Linked DNA regions of Homo sapiens: all the other regions are linked to region 3. Evidence: fine-mapped expression QTL. A gene starts in region 3. Each other region holds a variant in brackets. All regions are shown on one strand. Distances are from middle to middle. Region 1 overlaps ZFAND4 (zinc finger AN1-type containing 4). Region 2 overlaps ZFAND4 (zinc finger AN1-type containing 4). Region 3 holds the start of ZFAND4 (zinc finger AN1-type containing 4).

The links. PIP is the estimated chance that this variant, and not a neighbour inherited with it, causes the effect.
Region 1: its variant is the best candidate, but not a certain one, in a credible set for the expression of ZFAND4 in whole blood (INTERVAL, PIP 0.73).
Region 2: its variant is the best candidate, but not a certain one, in a credible set for the expression of ZFAND4 in whole blood (INTERVAL, PIP 0.89).

Annotation. Positions count from the first base shown.
Region 1 is chr10:45,638,069-45,640,725 of GRCh38, reverse strand. It overlaps ZFAND4 (zinc finger AN1-type containing 4), which reads left to right. Exons shown (of 10, transcript NM_174890.4): 6 at 763-910. Among named protein-coding and RNA genes, the nearest start is that of ZFAND4, 33 kb to the left of the region's middle. The variant A/C (reference allele first, on the strand shown) is at 1,390.
Region 2 is chr10:45,633,886-45,636,542 of GRCh38, reverse strand. All of the region lies in intron 6 of ZFAND4 (zinc finger AN1-type containing 4), which reads left to right. Among named protein-coding and RNA genes, the nearest start is that of ZFAND4, 38 kb to the left of the region's middle. The variant G/T (reference allele first, on the strand shown) is at 1,314.
Region 3 is chr10:45,671,635-45,674,291 of GRCh38, reverse strand. It overlaps ZFAND4 (zinc finger AN1-type containing 4), which reads left to right and starts at 1,520. Exons shown (of 10, transcript NM_174890.4): 1 at 1,520-2,042. RefSeq lists a silencer at 1,218-1,937.

The DNA of each region.
Region 1 (2,657 bases), 34 kb after region 3:
GAGGTCAGGAGATTGAGACTGTCCTGGCTAACACAGTGAAACCCTGTCTCTACTAAAAATACAAAAAATTATCTGGGCATGGTGGCACACACCTGTAGTCCCAGCTACTTGGGAGGCTGAGGCAGGAGAATCGCTTGAACCCGGGAGGCAGAGGTTGCAGTGAGCCGAGATTGTGCCATTGCACTCCAGCCTGGCGACAAGAGTGAGACTGTCTCAAGAAAAAAAAAATGTTTTTTGCTCCTTAAGAATAGAAAATGTTCTGATGACACCTGTGTATGAATTCTTTTTTTTTTTTTTTTTTTAGTGAGAATCTCCTCAGGATGACTAAAAATCTGTACTTCTCTCCCGTGCCAAATTTAAAAAAATTCTGATTCATGGAAATCTCATCAGCCTGTTGTCTGGGTTGCACAATTATCAGCCTTGGCTGATAAAATGAAATCAGACATTCTCATGGAAATGGATTTTGCCTCTTTGGGAATGATATGGCAGGTGTCAAAACATCTTCATTTATGATATACTGAATTCAGAGAAGCTCAGCTATACTAGATTTTCAGTAATCCTAGATCATAATATTTATTCCCATTTCATTTTTTCTTTTAAGAAGTACATTCTTTGAAATATATTTTCCTGACATTAACATTGACAAAATGGATGTAGTGTTTTATCATTAGTAACTTCTATAGATTGCTGTTTCATATAGAGCATTTTTAGTCACTGAGCAGGTATCAGAAAAATTTCAAGTAGTTATTGTTTTCTTTGCAGTGGTGGTTCTATGTATAATTCAGATACAGATGAGGATGAAGAAACTGAGCCTTCTTCTTCTGGGCAACAGATAATTGAAAATTCAATAACTATGAATAAGATGAAGCTGCTGAAGGCTAAGATGAAGAACATGAATCTCAGCAAAAAGGTGAAGCTGTTGGCATTTGACCAGGCTTATCTCTAGCTTACCCCTGCAGAGCACTCAGCAATGAGGTCTGTTGGTCATTGTGAAAAAATTATAAAGTATTATTCATTTCAGGTTTCTGGCCTCAGTTATTTATTAAACTTCTAAAAGGGATAAATTGGATTTTTTGGATTAGAAGCACACCTGAAGGGATTATACTGCACTTAACATCATTTTAAAGATCATTCTGGGTCTAAGAAGGATAAAAAAAGAGAGCTTAATCTTAATCTGGCAATAATTACTTTTTAAAATATGTTAATATTTATTTATTATGGATAAAGATATCTACTATTTAGTAGATAGTGCCAGTTTTTTCCAAAGTGATTGAACCAATTTACATTCTTTACAACAGTGAATGAGAGTTGCCATTTTCCCATATTCTTACCAGTATTTGGCATGGTCCTTTGTAATTTTTGTAATCCTACTTTGTTTGTGGTGGCATC[A/C]CATTGTGGTTTTAATTGCATTTCTCTCATGAGACCTGGAAGGTTGAGCACCTTTCATATGTTTATTGGGCATTTGGATACCCTTTTTAATAAAACACCTATATTTTTCCATTTTTCTATTGGGTTGTATGTTTTTTGTTACAGATTTTTTTTGGAGTTTTATATATATTCTAGATAAAAGTCCTTTGTTTCATATTACCACTTTATTGCTTTCCTTTTTACTCTATTAATGGCTCCCTTCCTTTTCATGTATAATAAAATTCAAAAATCTTTAATATACTACTTGACGAATTTTTACATTTATATACACTCATGTAGACACAACCCAAATTAAAATAGGACCTTTCACTCCAGAATGTTTCCTCATAATATTTCCCAGTTAATACGTACCTGTTCCTACTCTCAGAAATAACGACTGTTCTTACATCTATTACCGTAAATACGTTTTTCCTATTCCTGAAATTTATATAAATGGAATCATAGAGAGTATGGTCTGGTTTCTTTTGTTAAAAGTATTTGTTTGATTTATCCATGTGGTTGTATGTATCAGTTAATTCTTTTTTATTGTTGTGTACTATTGTACTGTGTGATTGATTTACCTCAATTTGCTTCTTTCTTTTCCTTTTGATGGACATTTGAGTTGTCTCTAGCTTTTGGCTTTTATCAATAAACTTCCTTTGAATATTCTCATACATTCTTTGGTGGACATAGCACTTGTTTCTTTGGAGCATATACCTAGCAATGGACTTTCGGAGTCAGAGGGAAGATGCACGTTTAACTTTAGTATTATGCCAGACAATTTTGCCAAGCATTTTTTGGTTTTTTTGTTTTTTTGTTTTTTGTTTTTTTTCTTTTTTGAGACAGAGTCTTGCTCTGTCACCCAGGCGCTATCTCGGCTCACTGCAAGCTCTGCCTCCCGGGTTCACGCCATTGTCCTGCCTCAGCCTCCTGAGTAGCTGAGACCACAGGCGCCCGCCACTACGCCGGGCTAATTTTTTTTTTTTTTTTTGTATTTTTAGTAGAGACGGGGTTTCACCGTATTAGCCAAGTTGGTCTCGATCTCCTGACCTCATGATCTGACTGCCTCGACCTCCCAAAGTGCTGGGATTACAGACATGAGCCACCGCGCCCGGCCAATTTTGCCAAGCATTTGAACCAATTTACATTCTTCCCAGCAACGTGAGAGTTCTAGTTTATGCCACATTCTTGTCAACACTTGATATTGTCAGTCCTTTTAATTTTAACCATTCTGGTGACTGTGTAAATGG
Region 2 (2,657 bases), 38 kb after region 3:
ACCTCAGCCTCCTGAGTAGCTGGGACGACAGGCTCATGCCACCATGCCTGGCTAATTTTTTGTATTTTTAGTAGAGACGGGGTTTCACCATGTTGGTCAGGTTGGTCTTGAACTCCTGACCTCAAGCAATCCACCTGTCTTGGCCTCCCAAAGTGCTGGGATTACAGGTATGAGTCACTGCGCCTAGACCAGTTTCAAATAAATTATAAAAGATTCCAAATAATACAAAAATGCTCTCTGATTACAATGGAATAAAATTAGAAATTAATAATAGATATGTGGAAAGCTTTCTGATATTTGAAAATAACACACTTCTAAGTAACTGATAGTCAAGAAGTCCAAAGAGAAGTAAGTATTTTTTCACTGAATAAAAATATTCTGATATTGTGATGAACTGATTTTTTAAAAATATAAAATAGTCTTGCATTGTTAGAATGAACCATTCTTGGTTGTGATGTATTTTTCATTTCTTTAGATTTAAATTATTAATATTTTCTTTAGGATTTTTGCATTACGATTTCATTCATGAGAGAAATTTTGATCTATATTTTTCTTTTCCAATATACAGTAAGGTTGAAAGAATTTTACCATGAACACTTATTTATCTAATATCTAGATTCTACCATTAAAATTTTTTAAATTTTATTTTTGTGGTAAAATACATATGTCATAAAATTATCTTAACCATCTTAAGTGTACAAACAGTTCAGTAATGTTAAGTGTATAACACAGTGTTGTGCAACCAATCTCCAGAAGTTTTTTGTCTTGTAAAATTGTCATAACGTGTCAGAATTTCCTTCCTTTTTAAGGCTGGATAATATTTCATTGTATGGCTATATACCACACTTTTTTAATCCATTCATTCCTCAATGTATACTTGGATTGCCCCCATCTTTTGGCTATTGTGAATAATGGTGCTATGAACATAAGTATACAAATATGTCTTTGAGACCCTACTTTCAATGTTTTCTTTTAGTAGTTTCATAGTTTCAGATCTTAGAGTTAAGTCTTTAGTTCATTTAGATTTGATTTTTGTATATGGTAAAAGATAAGGGGTCTAATTTCATTCTTCTGCATGTGGATCCAGTTTTCCCAACATTATTTATTGAAGAGACTATCCTTTCCCCAGTGTATGTTCTTGGCATCTTTATCAAAAATAAGTTCACTGTGGGTCTGTGGACTTGTTTCTGGGTTCTCTGTTCTTTTCCATTGGTTGTGCATCTATGTTCATGTCAGTACTGTGCTGTTTTGGTTACTGTAGCTCTGTAGTATAATTTAAAGTCACATAATTGTGATTCTTCCAGTTTTTTTTT[G/T]TTTGTTTTTTTTTTGTTTTTTTTTTTTTTTTTTGCTTAGATGGCTTTGACTATTCTGTGTCTTTTGTGGTTCCATGTAAATTTTAGGATTATTTTTTCTGTTTCTGTGAAAAATGTCATTGGTATTTTGATAGAGATTATGTTGAATTTGTAGATTGCGTTGGGCAGTATGGACATTTTAACAATATTAATTCTTCCAACTCATGAACATGGAATATTTTTTCATATTTTTGTGTCGTCCAATGTTTTATAGCTTTCATTATAGAGATCTTTCACTTTTTTAGATAAGTTTATTCCTAGGTATTTTATTTTACTTTATTTGTAGCTATTGTAAATGAGATTACTTTCTTGATTTTTTTAGATTATTGTTGGTATATAGAAATGCTACTGGGTTTTGTATGTTGATTTTGTATCCCGCAACTTTACTGAATGTGTTTATCAGTTCTAATCGTTTTTTGGTGCAGTCTTTCTGTTTTTCCAAATACAAGATCATATTATCTGCAATCAAGGATAATTTGACTTCCTTCTTTCAAATTTGTATGCCCTTTATTTCTTTCTCTTGTCTGATTTCTCCAGCTAGGACTTCTAGTACTAGTACTTCTTTTCATTTAGGGTTCCTGATGATAATTCTCTCAGCATTTGTCTGAAAACTTATTTTACCTTTTTAATTTTGAGAAATGTTTAATTCTTTTTTTTTTTTTTTGAGATGGAGTCTTGCTGTTGCCCAGGCTGGAGTGCAGTGGTGTGGTCTCGGCTCACTGCAACCTCCACCTCCTGGGTTCAAGCGATTCTCCTCCCTCAGCTTCCCGAGTAGCAGTAGCTAGGACTACAGGCATGAGCCACCATGCCCAACTAATTTTTGTATTTTTAATAGAGATGGGGTTTCACCATGTTGGCCAGAATGGTCTTGATCTCTTGACCCCGTGATCTGCCTGCCTCGGCCTCCCAAGGTGCTGGGATTACAGGCATGAGCCACCGCGCCTGGCTGAGAAATGTTTAATTATTTAGAAATGTTATAAGACTAGATTCATCAATTAATATTTTCCCACATTTGCTTTCTGTTTGGATTTTTCTTTAGCTGATCTATGTGCAAGTTAGATATCATGACACTTCCCCTAAGTACTTTATTTATTATGTATCTCCTAAGAATAAGGGCCACCTTTTACATGATTATGATACAGTTACCATACTCATTTATGATTGATACACATTATGTCATCTATATTCATATTTCCCAGGTCTTAATAATGTGCTTAATAGCATTTTATATTGTTTTTAATCTGGGATCCAATCAAGAATGATGCATTGCATTTCGTTGTAATGTTTTCATAGTCTCCTTTTATA
Region 3 (2,657 bases):
TGTATTGTGTCCTAGTTTAAATATGGCTTTCCGACATAGAGCTGTTTGATTATAGGTAAATTGTTCTACTTTAATTGGCTTTTGTTTACTCCTTTGTAGACGAGGGATTTCACTACCAACTTTGCAGGATTGTGATGGGGAGAGAATACGTAAAGACCCTTATCAACTATCTGGCACTTGAAGAATGGCAGATGATAATGATGATGATGTTGTAAAGAATGAATGACTTGGCCAGGTAATGGAGCTTCTGGTATTGGGAGGCAAGGCTTTAAACACACCTGCCTGACTCCACGGTCCATGCTGTCAATTCTCCAGTGTGAATGAAGTGGGCAGGCAAGGGTGAGAAACGCTAAGGTTTTTACTCAGTAAGTCTCCATCACAGGCCCTATTCTAGGCTCAGGAATGCAAAGATGATTACCATCATAGCTCTGTCCTCAAAGGTCTCCAATCTATTTAGCATTAAGCATATGTGGAGTTTCAGAAGGAACCAACGGCGAGACTGGTGAATCAATGCCCAGTGCCTCACCATACTCCCCCAGTGTATGCTCAATAGTTCGTTGAACTGTGGAGATAAGTTGGTGGGTAGGGTCTCAGAAGAATGAGAGAGGACAGGAGACACAGATTAGATGTTTAGTTTCATATTAGACTGGCTCCTCTGAGCCAGAAGTCGAGGATGAGTGAACCCGCAGTGGGAGTGAGATGACATTCTTTGTCAGCTGAGTAACCCACTTAGTGAAGGAGGTTCACGGAGTTGGAAAATCGGTAGGGGGAACGGAACGAGGCAGTGGGCTCCCATGTTAGGTTGAAAGGCAGGTGTTGGCTTGAAGCCAGTTACTGTTTACACCGCAGCTCAGCAGCTTGGAAACTGGAGCAGGAGGTGTGGCTGGGCTTACCCAACGCTGGGATTTGAGCCCAGGGTGCCTACTCCATTGCCTGGCCTACAGTTCTCAGTAAATTGTATGAGGACTACAGAAAGTTATCTGTTTTCGCCTTTGTCTTCAAGCAGGCACGGTAATGCCCCCATTTTCCAGATGAGGCAATTGAGGCCAGAAACATTAGGGGACGGTGAAGCCTAAAGCAGATTTGTTAGGACAGGCCGGCCCAAACGCACCAGGAGCGCCCCTCACTCTGGAGAGGCCACCGACTGGACAGCGTCTGCCTGTATCGCCTATCTCCAGCAAATCAGGCGCCTGGAAGAGGATCCCCGGTGGGTCTCACGGAGGGCGGCTCCGGCTTCAACCCCGCCGTTCCCAGCAGGCCATGCGGCTGCCCTCCAGACGCCCGCGTGGGCACGAGTCAGGGGTCCAGTGTTGCTAGTAATAAAAGATCAACATCCGGGCCTCGTAACTCACAACCTCCAGCGAATGCCAAGAAGGCCCCAGGGCCCTGGCGCCCCGGCAACCGCCCACGTCCGGGGGCCAGGCCTGCCCCCGCCCGCGCTGATTGGAGGGCAGCGAAAGCGCCGTCCAGCGATTGGTAGGTGGTGTCACAAAGGGGCGGGGCGCGGCGGCAGCGGAGCGTTGTCGGCCAGTGCCTTCCGTGAAGTTGCTCGCCGGGTCGTTGGGCCCTGTCGACCTGTAGGCGGGCGAGCGAGCCAGCGGACAAGACTGCGGGTGAGGCTGAGCTAGCGAGCGGCCGGCAGGGGGGGCGCCCGGGCTGCGAGCCGCTGAGCCCAGCCGCGCTGCCGCCGCCGGCCGTCGTGGGGCCGGAATGGCGCAAGGCCGGAGTGGCGCGGGCGCTCGGCGCTGGGCTGCCGGGTAGAGTCCTGTCCCCGCCCCTCGCCTTGCGGCCTGACGCCGGCCGCTGCTGCCCGGGGACCGGAGCGGCGGGCCGCCTTTGCCCAGGACACACGCTCTGGCGTTTGTTCCTTTGGGCGTGACGCCAGCTTCAACGGGTACGCGGCTTTCCCGACGGGTGCTGATCTCCGAGTCGCTGTTGTCACGCGGACTGCTGTCCTCCAGATTCAGGCCGGTGGGTCTGGGGAGCCCGGATTGGTCTTGGAGGAGCAACGGCTGCGCAGGTGACTCGGTGGCCTCAAGTGTGTAGGTACCTGGATGGCGCGAGGAGATGCTGGCTCTGAAATACTTCCCAATTCCGCTTGCAGATGAACTCCGGACTAGAGTTTAGGCTACAGACAAGTTAGGCGGTTGATGTGATTCTGTAGCTCGTATTTCGAACTTTAGGGATGTTTTGATGTATCAGTAAATGTAGATCTGTGTCACAGTTTTAATGGCAGCTTCACATTCCGGATATCTTTATGTTGGGGAAAATGTTTCAAAGGTAACTGCTCTTCTGTAGCTAAGCTTCTTTAGAGCAGAGGTTGGAGAAAATTCTGAGTTACTGAAATTACGTATTCAGCGCTATTGCCTGTTTACCTTTAACTTCCATTTCATCCTTGGAGTTGTGTTTTTAGAAACTTTTCAGAAGAAATGAGAGAAATGCTTTGGGAATTGATTTTTTTTTTTTTTTTAAGTTCTAGGGTACATGTGCACAACGTGCAGGTTTGGTACATAGCTATACATGTGCCATGTTGGTTTTCTGCACCGACTAACTCGTCATTTATATTGCGTATTTCTCTTAATGCTATCCCTCCCCCCATCTCACTCCCCACGACAGGCCCCAGTGTGTGATGTTCCCCTCCCTGTGTCCAAGTGTTC